Homo sapiens: one gene and its partner. The protein of the gene in region 1 interacts with the protein of each later gene in a biochemical or structural test. Each region holds a gene or a part of one and is shown in the gene's direction. Other genes may lie near its edges.

Region 1 (7,248 bases):
AAAAGTCTCATAAAAGGCATGGTGGCTTACACCTGTAATTCCCAGCACTTTGAGAGGCCAAGATGGGTGAATTGTTTGAGTTCAAGAGTTCGAGACCAGCGTGGGCAACATGGCAAAACTCTGCCCTAGAAAACACACACACACACAAAATTAGCTGGATATGTTGGCGCGTACCTGTAGTTTAAGCTACTCGAAATGCTGATGTGGATCACCTGAGCCCAGCACGTCAAGGCTGCAGTGAGCCATGATGGTGCAGTTGCACTCCAGCCTGAGTAACGGAGCAAGATAAAAAAAAAATAACATAAACTATACATATGTGTGTATGTGTGTGTATAAAGTCTAGAAAAGCAATGATAGGCACTACAAAAAGTTAGCAGAGTTATGAACGTATCTGTGTTATTTCAATATTTTTTAAAAGAATGCCTTTATGAACTTCTCATATAAAAAAGAAATAAAAGTAATGTAAAACTGTAAAAAATTCAGATGTACATAAAAATATAAACAAGATGGAAATTGCCTGTTCTGTGATGCCACAGATAATTTCATTAATTCACCTAACAAATATTTACTGAATACATCCTATAGAGCTATGATCTATCACGATTTTAGTGTGCATTTCAGACCTTTCCTGTACCTCCAGAGTTATATACAAATTGTAATCATTCATTGATATGTATTGTTACAAGCGTAATATGTACAGCTGGCCCTCTGGATCCACAGGTTCCAAAACTACGGATTCAACCAACCTCGGGTTTGAAGTATTAGGGGAAAAACCCAAAGATAATAAGACAACAATAAAAAATAATGGAAGTAAAAGCAATACAGTATACCAACTATTTACATAGGATTTCCATTGTATTAGATATTATAAGTAATTGAGAGATGATTTAAAGTGTATGACAGGATGTGTATAGGTTATATGCAAATACTATGCTATTTTATATCAGGGACTGGAGCAGCCTTAGATTTTGTTATTTATTGGGGGCCCTAGAACCAATCCCCTACCAATACCAAAGGACAACTGTTACATCATAAGCTCTTATTACTTAACATTCATTATTCATTCATTCAGCATATATTTATTGAGCATCTATGTTAGCCAATATCATGCTAGGTTCTGAGAATGGAAAGGTGAATAAATTGTCTGTTCCTTAACAAAATTTACTGATATGGTTTGTCTTTGTGTCCCCACCCAAATCTCATCTCAAATTATAATCCCCACGTGTTGAGGGAGGGGCTTGCTGGGAGGTGATTGGATCATGGGGGTGGTTTCCTCCATGCTGTTCTCATGATAATGAGGAGCTCTCACGAGATCTGATGGTTTAAAAGGGGCAGGTTCCCCTGCGTGCACGCTCTCTCTCTCTCCTGCTGCCATGTAAGACATGCCTTGCTTCCTCTTCACCTTCTTCCATGATTGTAAGTTTCCTGAGGCCTCCCTAGCCCTGTGGAACTGTGAGTCAATTAAACCTCTTTTATTTAGAAATTACCCAGTCTCAGGTAGCATCTTTATAGCAGTGTGAAAACTAATATGCTTACAATATAGTGGGAGAGAATGTCACTAAAGAAAGAATATTTCCAAGAAGTATACAATTATAGATTATGTCAAGTTCAGACAACTGTAAACAATGTTCTGAATATCCATCTGTGAAAGGAAAGGGTGATGGCTATGATGGCAAGATACCATGGCATGTTTATTATTGATGGGAATGAGCCAGTAGAAAGAGGTTAAAAATACAAGAGCAAGAGAAGGGAATCCTGGATTTATAGAAAGCTTCCTTAGAAGGAAGAAGCCGGAGAACAAGTTAAAGGGTTGGCTTCAAATAGAAGCGAACTGCCTCAACTGAAATAAGCAAGAGTGAGGATGACTGAAAATATACCTTAGTTTGTAGATTCAGAGGTTTGAAGAATTGCCAAAATATGGGACAATGTCATCTGCCTAGAGCAAAGGAGTATATTGGAAGTTCTGAGGTTTGAAGAGAATGGAGTTTTTAAGTAGTAGTTTGGGGAAAGCATGCTGAATAGAGAAGGGCAGTAACTGGGCATGCTTCATTAAGAACCTGTATTCTGTCATGTGGGGCAGATTCTAAATATTTTCAGCTCTCTTACTGCAGGCAAGATAAAGGCAAAGGAGTAGGTATTAGAAGAGAGAGACAAACTTCTAGAGGGAACTAAATTTTTGAAGAGGATTGTCTTCCAACTGGGAAGAGAGGGAAAGCTTTTTGAGGGGAGTAGATCTGAGCTGGGCAAGAGAACACACTTGCTAGAGAAAGAAAATGGCCAGAGAGAGAAAAGGGGAGAAAAAAGTCTGGGGGAGATGGAGATAAAAGCAGAGTAGTGGGGGATTTCTGGCCTAGGTGCAGGAATGTCCTTTTATCTTCCAAAGTAAATGTGGTCACAGTAATATTAACAGTTTGTCATCTGATGTTGTGAAATTGTTTCCATATATTATTTAGACTCTCAGACCTGACAATCTATGGAGGAATTCCCAGGCATCTTTAGCTGCTACAGAGATGCATGAATGAAGGACAAGTATATTATCCTCCACACATTAGAAGAGAGGCTCCAGGGAGCAACAGGAGGCAAAAGTTCTTCTTTTCTTTTTTTTTTTTTTTTTTTTTGAGATAGTCTTGCTCTATCACCCAGGATGGAGTGCAGTGGCATGATCTTGGCTCACTACAACCTCCACCTCCCAGGCTCAAGTGATTCTCATGCCTCAGCCTCCCGAGTAGCTAGGGTTAAAGGCACATGCCACCACACCTAGCTAATTTTTTTTATTTTTAGTAAAGACTGGGTTTCACCATGTTGGCCAGGCTGGTCTTGAACTCCTGACCTCTAGTCATCTGCCTGTCTTGGCCTCCCAAAGTGCTGGGATTACAGGTGTGAGCCACACTGTGCCCGGCCAACATTTATCATTTGTGTTGAGACTATCCCAACCTTTCTCCTCTATTTTGAAATACAAAATAAATTATTGATTACTATAGTCACCCTACTGTGCTGTGGAACGCTACAACTTATTCCTTCTGTCTAACCATATTTTCGCTCCTTTTAACTTCTCTTCATCTCCTTCTCCCTCCTTATCCTTCCCAGCCTCTGGTAACCACAATTTTACTCTCTATCTCCATGGAGTCAACTTTTTTTTAGCTCCCACATATGAGCACCAAACTTCAATGTAAGACCCAAAACTATGCAGCTATTCCAAGAAAACGATTTGAGAAAATGCTTGAAAATGTTGGTCTGGGCAATGATTTTTTTTTTTTTTTTAATTAAGACTTTCTGAAGAAAAGGGCATACTTTTCACTGAAAAAGTTTGAGTTTTTTAAATGAGCAGATACTCATGCATTACTAGTGCAGCCAAAAATTATCAAAAGTAGGGAAGAATGCAAAATAGCGTGTGCCTCTTAACTAAAGAACTGTTAAGATACAAAACTTGGCTCTTTGCTGCCTTTCCCGCACTGCCAAGAGGGAAACATGAATTAGTTACATTGCCGTGGTGCTCACTGGGAGTTCGCTGTATGGACCAGATGGGTACTGCTCCGAATTTCCATTCAAGTCTGACATTCTTTTGTCAGCGTTTGTGTAACCGGTTTTCCTTGCATTCAGAGGAAAGACAGCATGGAAGTATGGATGGGAAGGTTGAGACGATTGGATACTGTATGGTAACCTCGATCGCAGCTCTCCTATGAGACTTGCTTCTTGGATTCTGAGTCACTTAAGCTTGCCCCTTCTCTTTCCTGACCCTCTTCCGTTTCCCCTTAGATTGGAGATTCTCCTCAGATTCTAAGTCTCTGAAATTATTAGTGTTGGCAGCCCCTGGGCCCATGGAGGGGTCTCAAGTCTTCAGTTCTCAAAGATCACCTTTTAAGCTTCATTCGGAACATGACACAGCCACACGAGTCCTAGCCCTGAATCTCACGAAGACCTCAGTACACCTGGAAAAGGCAGCACACCCAGTTACGACACTACTAGAGACGTCACACGCCTCAGCACCCATCCGCTCCCAGCCCAGAACGAGCGCACGCGCAGAACGAGAGAGCGGCCACCCAGGGATCGGCGCTATCTGCACAGCGGTTACAGTCTCGGAAAGGCCTGGCTTCTTCGTGGCTTTGTGGAGATCCCTTACAGCGGCCATTTGATTAGCACCCGAAGAGATTCAAAGGAAGCAGTTGTTCCGTCCCCAACATATTTCCGTTTCAAACCACCCACTTCCGGTTTTTCAGCCGGTTCCGGTCCCGCCCTTCACTTCCGGTCGCTTTCGGTCTCTCAGCGGCCGGTTTCTGCGTCCGCTGCCGCAGGTTCCACCGCGCTCCAGGTGAGGGGTTGCGGGGCACCCTGGCGCGCTGCCCTTGGAGACGCTGTTGGGGCTCGGGGACAGTGGCTTTGCGGCCCGCGCGGCGTGGCTTGCACTGCGGCGGGCTGGGGATAGTGTCTGTCCTAGTCTGACGCCCAGGCCCCTAGCCCCGGCCCGCTTAGTCGCGGGGGCCGCTGTCCTCCCATCCAGCAGTCTAGCCTATTTGGAGGGCTTTCTGTTTCCCAGTGGGTTTTGCGTCCCCAAACTTCATTCCTCCGTCTTCTCAGGCTTGTCCATCCCTCCCCTCAACCTCCTTGTTGAAGGCATCCCGGCCTTTTTGGTTCTGGAGCCTCCACCTGCCTCCTAATGCTCCCCTAAGTCAGTTAGCACAGCCCCCGACCCTGCACCACCTCGCAGTTGTTGCTGGTGTGCGGTTCTCGCCGGAGTTCTTAGTGCTTCACGGTTATCTTTTGCTGGGATTGTTGAAAGTTAACCTCCCGTTAATTCCCAAAGTGTTACTTTTACTGCTATACTTTAAAATTTCTTCATTTGCCACTTTTTAGGTTTGTGGTCCCGGGCAAGTTTAATTTCTTTTCAGGATTCTCATTTGTATAATGAGGACAACAGCTGTTGGTTCAGGATTGTGAAGCTTCAATGAGATAATTGTTTAGCATGTTTTTATTCCATCATGAACACCATTTGTATTGTGTTTTACAGTTTACAAAGTGCTGTCACAGGTGTTACTTCATACCTTAACACTACTCCTGTCCAGTGAATATTAGTAGCCTCATCTTGTTGAGAAGACTGAGGCCAAGAGGTGGATTGACTAGGCAAAGTCAACACAGTATGTTAGGTAGAACTCCAACCTAAACAGCTATTCTTGACCCTAGGTTGACCATATGGAAGTGTATTCTTTGCTTGCTTGTTTGGGTTTGCCAACTTCACTCCTCCCCACACCCCAAATCATTTTTCAGCTTATAAATCTGATGGGATCTGAAATGATACAAAATACTAAGAAAGAAGGTTAAATGTGAAAGCAAAATAGCTCATGCATTTATATCACACTGCTTCATTGGTGTGAACGGTCTTAATGATGAAATAAGGTTCAGTAACTTTTAAACAAATCTTAAAGACATATGCATTTACAATTTTTATGGTGTTTGTTTCGCTTGGCCCTTTAAGGCATTTGCCAACTTGGAATTTCCACTTGTGGGATAGGTGCTTCGTAACGTTTTTATGCTGCTTTATTAACCATATAGAGCCCATGCCCTCTGGCACATTTTTTTTAAGGCTGAAAACATTGAAGAGCCTGTAGTACTGACTCTCAAATTTGAGCATTCATCAGAGGTGAGGAGGACTGACCTTGTTAAAACACAGATTCCTAGGTCCCTTCTCTCCACCCCAATTACATTTCTACCAAATTACCAAGTGAGGTCAATGCTGTTCGTTAGCCCAGGGACCATGCTTTGAAAACCACTAGTCTAGAAGAGCAATCACTTGTCCAGGGTCACCTGGAACTCAGATGATTTCACTCCAAACTCTGCACTACTACGCATCACAATATATGCGATATTAGTGCTGGTTGCCTTTCTAGCTCTCGTAGGATTCCCTTTTATTCTTATGTCTTACAGAAAATATTTAAACTGTATTTCAGTTTAACTCAAAAGGTCCACTTTTAATTGAAGAATATAACATTTGTTATAGTTCTGTCTAAAATGGAATACGTTACCCTAAATTAAGACACTTGCTTTACATTTTCAGTAGAACACATTGTAAACATAGGAGTAAATATACATTTATAGTTCATATTTGTATTCATATATGAGTAAATATAAATATGAATTTATGGCTCTCTCTTCTAATTGGCCTTTTAGTAGGAGACACTGTTTTTAAATTATTTTTGGAAGTGGAGATTAAAAATTTAACCTCTTTCTTGCAGTTGGTCCTAATAGTTGCATGAAGAGTGCAATCAAATGTTTCATCAAATAAGTGAAAGCATTGGAAATACCAATACCTTGAGATTAGAAAATCCAGTTCTCTGGACTGTGGGAGGAATGAGTTTAATGAAAAATAGAAAGCTTTATGCAGGAAGAGACATATGTTTGGTTATTTACATGAGTGGCAGCCACTATATAATCTTTGTGTGCTTAGATCTGTACCCATGGGTTTTGTATTTTCTGATTGATATGGTTTGGCTGTGTCCCTACCAAAATCTCAACTTGAATTGTATCTCCCAGAATTCCCACTTATTGTGGGAGGGACCCAGTGGGAGGTAATTGAATCATGGGGGCCGATTTTTCCCGTGCTATTCTTGTGAATAAGTGAATAAGTCTCATGAGATCTGATGGATTTATCAGGGGTTTCCGCTTTTCTGTCTTCCTCATTCTCTCTTGCCACTGCCATGTAAGAAGTGCTTTTTACCTTCTGCCATGATTCTGAGGCCTCCCTAGCCATTGTGGAACTGTAAGTAGCTGGGATTACAGGCGCCCACCACCACCTCTGGCTAATTTTTTTTTGTATTTTTAGTAGAGATGGGGTTTCACCACATTGGCCAGGCTGGTCTTGAACTCCTGACCTAAGGTGATTCACCTGCCTCAGCCTCCCAAAGTTCTGGGATTACAGGCATGAGCCACTGTGGCCAGCCTTGGGTATGTCTTAGCAGCATGAAAACAGACTAATACGGTAAATTGGTACTAGTAGAGTGGGGCATTGCTGAAAAGATACCCGAAAACGTGGAAGCAACTTTGGAACTGGGTAACAGGCAGAGGTTGGAACAGTTTGGAGGGCTCAGAAGAAGACAGGAAAATGTGGGAAAGTTTGGAACTTCCTAGAGACTTGTTGAATGGCTTTGCCCAAAATTCTGATAGCTATATGAACCATAAGGTCCAGGCTGAGGTGGTCTCAGATGGAAATGAGGAACTTGTTGGGAACTGGAGTAAAAGTGACTCTTGTTATGTATT
Region 2 (7,986 bases), on another chromosome or scaffold:
CTAAAAATACAAAAATTAGCCGGGTGTGGTGGTGCTTGCCTGTAGTCCCAGCTACTTGGGAGGCTGAGGCAGGGGGATCACTTGAATTTGGGAGGCAGAGGTTGCAGTGAGCCGAGACTGCGCTACTGCACGCCAGCCTGGGCAACAGAGCAAGACTCCATTTCAAAAAAAAAAAAAAGAATAGAATGGAAGAGTCGTTTTGTTGAAGAAAAATGAGAAATGATATGCAACTGTTTTGAATGGGAAAACACAACCTACTTAAAGGGGGAGTTATTATTCAGCTCCAGCAAATTGTTAAGAGGGAATAAAAATCAATGTTGACATCTTCTCCCCTTTTCAAAAGCTGAAAATCTGTATTTTAGTGTTAAATATACTCTAAAAATGTTAGCCCAACTTTGTGTTTGTTGGGTTGGGAGCAAGTTAAAGCCAGACTTGGTATCTGTTAATTCAACAGAATCTGGCATTTAATAGGTACTCAATGTTTGAATAATTAGCTGGGTGTGGTGATGCACACACCTGTGGTTCCAGCTACTTGAGAGGCTGAGGTGGGAGGATGGCCTGAGCCCACTGAGGATGCAGTGAGCCCTGACTCCACCACCACACTCCAGCCTGGGCAACAGAGACCCTGTCTCAAAAAAACAAAAGAAAAACATATTTGAATAAAAAGTTTCCCCATTTATTTTTCCTTCCACTAAACTGATTGAAACATCCAGAACAAGTGATGAAAGAGAAAGGCACTAATTAGGTAATCAATTTACCATTAGATTGTAAATTTAATTTAAAATAAAATGTCCCTAAAATCATCTCAGTACTTGGCACACTGACTTAAGATGTGGGGTGGGGGAGCATCCCTTAACACATTCTTTGTTTTCCTGGTAAATACTGGTGGAACAAGACAGCTGAGAATGTATGACATCTGACCATGAACATATGACAGCTGTTTGTGCCAGTCATGTCCAAACCCATGGCTCTCAACTCCAGATCCAAAAACTCTCCCCATGTTTTAGACCTCCCACACCAGCATTTAGGATTTCTTCCTCTATAATCTTGCTGGGTGCTGGTCTTGGCAGGGCCATCTACTGGGGATAGGTGGTTTGGGGTCTCAGTGGTGGGCACCGGCTTGTTCTTGCCTCCTCTGCAGCTCCTCTTGCCGCCTCGCCTGCTGTTCACTCATGCAATCCTTGAACGCCTGCACCTGTGGCTGGCATTGCCGCCAGTCCTGGTGCTGGGCCATGCACTCCTGCACTGCAAAGTGGGAGGCAGCACAGCCAGAGCGGGAGATCAGCTGGTCCAGCGGGTCCTCCTCCTCATCGTCTTTCTTCACCCGTTGGGTCCAGGTATGGCCTTGAGGGACTGAGGTTGACATCCTGGGGATGGGGAGTCTATAGAACATTAACAGGTTAGAGTAGGGATATAATATGTAAGGTTCCTAAATTATAAATAGCACTGACCAGACTGCACCATTTAGCCTGTTTAATGTGTCTGTCTCCCGTGGGAGACTCTAAGCTTGAAGACAGATGCTTGTTTTTTTTTTTTTTTTTTTGAGGGTGTCTTGCTTTGTTGCCCAGGCTCACTGTAGCCTCCATCTTTAGGGATCAAGCAATCCTTCCCCCTCAGTCCCTCCCTGGCCAGAGTAGCTGGGACTACAGGTGTGCATCACCACTCAGCTAATTTTTTTGATTCTTTAATAGAGACAAGGTTTTTCCATGTTGCTCAGCATGGTCTCAAACTCCTGGGCTCAAGTGATCCTCCTGCCTTAGCCACCCAAAATGCTGGGATTACAGGTGTGAGCCAACTGTGCCCGGCTGATGTTCGTCTTGATTTACCTTTGTGCCCCCAGCACTAGGCCTGGCTGAGAGCAGGCCTGAAAAGTGGTTTGAACTGAATGAGATAAACTGTGAGAATGCTTGACATAACATTCAATAAGCTCAGTGGATTTTGCTATTGGAATATGAATTAGGTGAAATGTCATCTTTTTAGATAAGCTATCTCTGATCTACCTAAAAAGAACTAAACTTTCAGCTAGGTACGATGGCTCACACCTGTAATCCTAGCATTATGGGAGGCTGAGGCAGGAAGATCCCTTGAGCCCAGGAATTTGAGACCAGCAGGGGTAATAGCAAGACCTCATCTCTACAAAAAAATTTAAAAATGGCTGGATACGGTGGCTCATGCCTATAATCCCAGCACTTTGGGAGACTGAGGCAGTCGGATCACCTGAGGTCGGGAGATCAAGATCAGCCTGACCAACATGGAGAAACCCGTCTCTACTAAAAATACAAAATTAGCAAGGTGTGGTGGCATATGCCTGTAATGCCAGCTACTCAGGAGGCTGAAGCAGGAGAGCCGAGGTTGAACTCGGGAGGCGGAGGTTGCGGAGAGCCGAGATCACACCATTGCACTCCAGCCTGGGCAATAAGAGCAAAACTCCATCTCAAAAAAAAAGAAAAAAGAAAAAAAATGTAAAAATTAGCTGGGCATAGTGGCACACACTTGTAGTCCCAGGTACTCAAGAGGCTGAAGAGGGAGAATCCTTTGAGCCCAGGAGTTCAAAGGCTGCAGTGAGCTATGATGGTGCCACTGTACTCCAGCTTAGGTGACATAGTGAGACCCTGTTTCAAATAAATAACCTTTCTTCTTTTATCCTACTAGCCTTATTCTATGCTGAAGAACAAAGTTTAAAAAGTGAAAGAGGCTGGGTGCAGTGGCTCACACATGTAATCCCAGCAATTTGGGAGCCCGAGGCAGATGGATCATAAGGTCAGAAGTTCAAGACCAGCCTGGCCGGGATGATGAAACCCCGTCTCTACTAAAAATACAAAAATTAGGCGGGCGTGATGGCAGGCACCTGTAATCCCAGCTACTCGGGAGGCTCAGGCAGGAGAATCGCTTTAACCCAAGGGGCGGAGGTTGTAGTGAGCCAAAGATCGTGCCACTGCACTCCAGCCTGGGTGACAGAGTGAGACTCCATCTCCAAAACAAACAAACAAACAAAGTGAAAGAGTGCCCAAATATGGGTAGGTTTTGACACATGGGAAGGATGGAAAGAGTTCACTGTGGCTGTAGCATACAGTATGCAGAAACCTGGCCTCTGGGTCTATAAGGTGAGATGGCTTTGTAAACTATACAAAAATGTGAGGTGTATTTATTTGCCCAAACTGTCTTGCCCGTCTGCATCAGAACACTCAGCAGAAAGCAGCATACAGAAGGAACTTAAGGTTTGAAGAGAAATGACTTCAGCCTTTGCAAAAATTTCACCATGATGGGCTGTAAAGCAACTAGGACTCCTTATTGCCTTAACTGTGTCTCTCATTCACTCAACAAATGATTAAGTACCTATCATGTACCAGGCACTATGCTAGTGCTGAGGATTCAAGACTGTCTAAGTCAGTTAAGTTCCTGGCTTCATGGAGTTTACAACCTAGACAAGGAAACAGGGCAGTTTACTACACAGTGTACAGATAGCAAAGACTGGGACCACAGTGGAGGGATGCCTAATCCAGACAAGGGCAGGAATAGGCAGGGAAGGCTTCCTAGAGGAAGTGATTTCCAAGCTGAAACTTGACAGATGGAACAGAAGTTAGCCAGAGATGGGAAAACTATTTTTGGTCAATGGAAGAGCAGGTGGTTGAGATAGAATCTGACACATGAGAGCAAAAAAAAAAAAAAGTTCAGTGATGGGAGAATACAGTGTGAGAATAAGACAATATTAAACTGGCGATATAAGTAAGTGATCATCACAAGGCTTTGTAGGACATAGTAGGGAGTTTAAGACTTTTTATTCTGAGGGCAATGGGGAATCACAAGAGGGAGTTAGGCACTTTACACAACTCATTTGCCTTGGAGGCGGTATAACTTAAGCAAGAGGGAGAAAATGGGCTTTGAAACAGACTTGGACCTAGCTTTGTCACTGCCTCATTTGGTGCCCTTGGACACATCATTTAATAACCTCTCTGGAAGCACAGAGATGAAGCCGGGTGCCATGGCTCACGCCTGTAATCCCAACACTGGGAGGCTGAGGCGGGAGGATGGTTTGCGCCCAGCCTGGGCAACACTGTGAGCCGTGATCACGCCACTGCATTCCAGCCTGGGTTACAGCGGGAGACCCTGTCTCAAAAAAAAAAAAAAAGAAAAAAAAAAAGGTAAGGTTTGTAAGGAGGCTGGTATGTCTAAAGAGTTCAATAAATGATAGTTTTCTCTTCCTAAATACACTGTTAACTCTTTAAATAGGGCCAGGAGCAAATAATTTAGAGAAAGAACAGTGGAATAGAAAGTGCCTTGATCCTAAACCAAGAGATCCGTGTTCAAATCCCAGCACTACGCCTTACTATGTAATCTTTTTCATTTTAGTTTTCCCATTAATAATATTTAATTCGCACAATTAGAATGAAGATTAATATAACGAATGAAAAGCGCTTGGGCTACTATAGGACTCAGTAAATGCTGCTGTACTCTCCTCTCACCACCTTTTGGCTTCAGTCTCCTCTGGAGTAAAATGACGACGACCCCTGCTCAGAGATCAGGGTAGGCTAGATGGTTGGCAGCTGGATCGTGGAGGCTGGCCTAAACAAGGAAGTCATGGAAAGGATCTTAAAGCAGAAAAATGCTGGCAGCCACGAGGCCTGAGGCGCCTCAGGCGTATCGAGGACTTTGAACTTTGAGGACGCATGCGCGCGCGCGGCCGCTGATCGCAGCCCCGTTGTGCCCGCAACGCCTCCTGAAGAACGCGGTACGCGATGCTCACCGAACAGGTGGGAGAAGAGGGCCCGAACGCACGCTCCTACGCGGCGGCTTGGGTTTCGCAGGCGGTTGGGGATCCTCTGTACATCCTTTCAGGAACCAGCCCCTCGTGGGGAGCGTGCACACGGAAGGGGCGGGGAATGTGAAAAAGTCACGTTTTCATTGGTGGCCTCTTGGTGTTGAGCCCACCTCTGTCCTCGCCGCACGCTTCTCGGGGACTCACTTCCGGGAAGGGGCGGAAGAGGTGGGCTGGTGGAGGCGGGGTCGAGATGGCGGCGCCTTTGAGGATTCAGAGCGACTGGGCGCAAGCCCTCAGGTGAATCCAGGCCCAGAACAGAGTCAGAGGAGGCGGGTAGTGGATGTTGCTTTGCGTCAAGGAGAGCCATGCCTGGTCCAGGATATCAATAGGGGTTACTTCGTCAATTGTCGAGGGATATGGAGGGAACAGGGTCCGGAAAAAGAAGTATCAAACCCGTATGGTCATTCTCTGAAAAGCTATCCCTAGGCCAAGGGAGCACATGAGCTGTGTGATCCCCGCGTCAGAACTAGTATCAGTGAGTTGGAGAAAGACAGGGATACTGGGAGGCAGGAAGGCTTTTGGCCAAGCAGTCATTTAGCAAATATTGATTAGTCGTCAGTTACTTCCAGAAGTCTCTGTACTCACCACCACTTTGTGTATGTGATGGAACCTTTGTATTCTCCTAGGCCCCTAATGCTATATTAGGCATACTGGACGATACTATTAAGGAAACTAATACTGTGTCCAGGCCCCATACTGGATGCTTGGTGGAGCTCAGATGTATACTCTAAATATAAGTGATGGTTCCTGCTCTTCAAGAAGCTGACATCCAGGCCAGGCGCAGTGGCTCATGCCTGTAATCCCAGCACTTTGGAAAACTGAGATTGGTGGATCAGTTGAGGTCAGAAGTTCGAGACCAGCCTGACCAACATGGTGAAACTCCGTCTCTACTAAAAATACAGAAATTAGTCGGGCTTGGTGGTGGGCGCCTATAATCCCAGCTACTCGGGAGGCTGAGGCAGGAGAATCGGTTGAACCCAGGAGGTGGAGGTTGCAGTGAGCCGAGATTGCACCACTGCACTCCAGCCTGGGTGACAGAGCGATACTCATCTCAAAAAAGAAGAAAAGCTGACGTCTTAATTAGGAATACACAGCAAACTATTCATTCATCTAACATTTATTGATCTTATACTATTCCAGTTATTTCTCTAGGCTTCAGGATGAATATAGCAGTGCTATATTTGGCAACTGCTACTACTAATAAGGGTTTTTCAAATTGAAACAATGGTGAAGATGAATGAAACATAGCCTTCTGCATTTAAGAAATTTACACCTTACTAAATTTATACCTTACTTAATTTAGGTGGGCTAAAATACAGACTAGTTGCTAGTACACAGAATGTGATAAGTAATAAAGAACAATAACATGAAGTGCCACTAGCTACCTATGAGAAAATACAGCACCAGAATCAGAAGGCTTAATTTGCCCAAGATCATGCATCTCGTCAAATGATAGAGGGTTGCTGTCAACCTAGATCTTTCTGTCTTAAATGCATAGACCCTTTCCATTATACCCTAAAAGTGCTAGGGTGAAGAGATCAGGATTTGGATGATTGGGCAGGTGCTAAAATAATAAAAGGAATCTTGTTTGGTTATTGTGAGGGTTAATGATTGTGTATGGAAAGTGCTTAGCACAGGGCTTGGTTTACAATAATCCTGATAAATAATTAAATAACCTTGATTTTTCAAAGTGAGCTCACTGTTGATGGATGAGCATTAATTTAACCAACAGATATCTATTCATTAAATAGTTAATCCACAAATATTTCTTGAACAAATAAAGTTTGTCTGTCTTAGAATGATCTATACTCGATGAGAGGTTGGACTATCTCATGTCTAAGTACTATGACCAAGCTGGAGGTTACATGACCTTCTTTCTTCCCTTGTAACTATGGGATCCTATTCAACTTTGGGTAAGCCTAATTAGGCTTTTGTCTTTCTTCGTAGGAAGGATGAAGGGGAGGCCTGGCTGAGCTGTCATCCCCCAGGTAATACCCATGAATTATATATGCTGTGACTTTAAAGGAGAAGGATTAATACCCTTAAAAGAAAGCTTCCTACTTTCTCCTGGCCCAGCCTCCTTACATAATAGTCTGCAAACATGCTTGACCAGTCTGTACTGTATGGCCAACACCCCAACTCCTCCATTCCAAGGGAAGGCCTTCAGATTGATTTTCCATTTGAAAGCCACAGACTTATTCATGGAGACATTGTTGATGCATCTTAATTAGTCACTTACCCTGTGCTATTGTATTCTAAGCACTTCTGCAGCTTCAACTGGGACTTTCTTGATGATAATTTCTAGATCTACAGCCCCAGCCCTGACTTCTCCATGTTCAAGCAGAGATTGATCAGTTGTTTGCTAGATATTTCTGCTTAAAGGTCTCACTGTCACCTTAAGTTACTGGACTTACTGAAGTCCAAAACCAAGCTAAGTACATTTGTTGTCAAGTGAGTTCTCTTTCCTGATTTTTCTCATTTCTTAAGTTACCATCATTTTTCTAGGCATCAGAGTGAAAAACCTAGTTACTTGACCCTGCCATATCCAGGAAGCTCCCAAGTCTTATCAATTTTTCTTTTGAACAACAGTCTTATATCATTCACAGGATTCTTTTCAAATTGTAACCGAGGTGGTACCATTCTAAAACAAATCAACCTTCCTTCTAAATTCTGTAAGAAAGTTTTGTTTTGCTGATTATCTTTCATTTCAAATGCTGCTGATATATTGTATTTCTATGAGAAATAAAGTTTTGGCCAGGCACAGTGGCTCACACCTGTAATCCTAGCACTTTGGGAAGCTGAGGCAGGAGGATCACTTGAGCTCAGGAGTTCGAGACCAGCCTGGGCAACAAAGTGAGACCCCCTCCCCATCTCTATAAAAAACAAAAAAAATTAGTCAGGCATAGTGGCATGCGCATGTAGTCCCAGCTACTTGGGAGGCTGCAATAGGAGGATCTCTTGAGCCCGGGAGGTTGAGGCTGCAGTGAGTTATGATCGAACCATTGCACTTTTGCCTGGGTGACAGAGTGAGACCCCATCATTAAAAAAAAAAAGACTATTGTTTATATCAGTGGAATAAAGGATGGACTTTATAGTGCTGTGACTTGCCAATCATCTTAAAAATAAGGCCAGACGTGGGGGCTCATACCTGTCATCCACCATTCTGG

Evidence for each region. Proteins that work in one complex are often made in the same cells at the same time.
Region 2: the proteins of UBLCP1 (region 1) and PAAF1 form a complex in vitro, tested with the Homo sapiens proteins (one study listed by BioGRID).

What each region holds. Positions count from the first base shown.
Region 1 is NC_000005.10:159,259,052-159,266,299, forward strand, and holds the start of UBLCP1 (ubiquitin-like domain-containing CTD phosphatase 1), read left to right. Parts: upstream 1-4,238; 5' UTR 4,239-4,309; intron 4,310-7,248. UniProt on the Homo sapiens protein: Dephosphorylates 26S nuclear proteasomes, thereby decreasing their proteolytic activity. Recruited to the 19S regulatory particle of the 26S proteasome through its interaction with 19S component PSMD2/RPN1.
Region 2 is NC_000011.10:73,872,013-73,879,998, forward strand, and holds the start of PAAF1 (proteasomal ATPase-associated factor 1), read left to right. Parts: upstream 1-4,986; 5' UTR 4,987-5,009; coding exon 5,010-5,056; intron 5,057-6,766; coding exon 6,767-6,807; intron 6,808-7,986. Other genes in the region: COA4 (cytochrome c oxidase assembly factor 4 homolog, mitochondrial), read right to left, coding at 1,103-1,393. UniProt on the Homo sapiens protein: Inhibits proteasome 26S assembly and proteolytic activity by impairing the association of the 19S regulatory complex with the 20S core.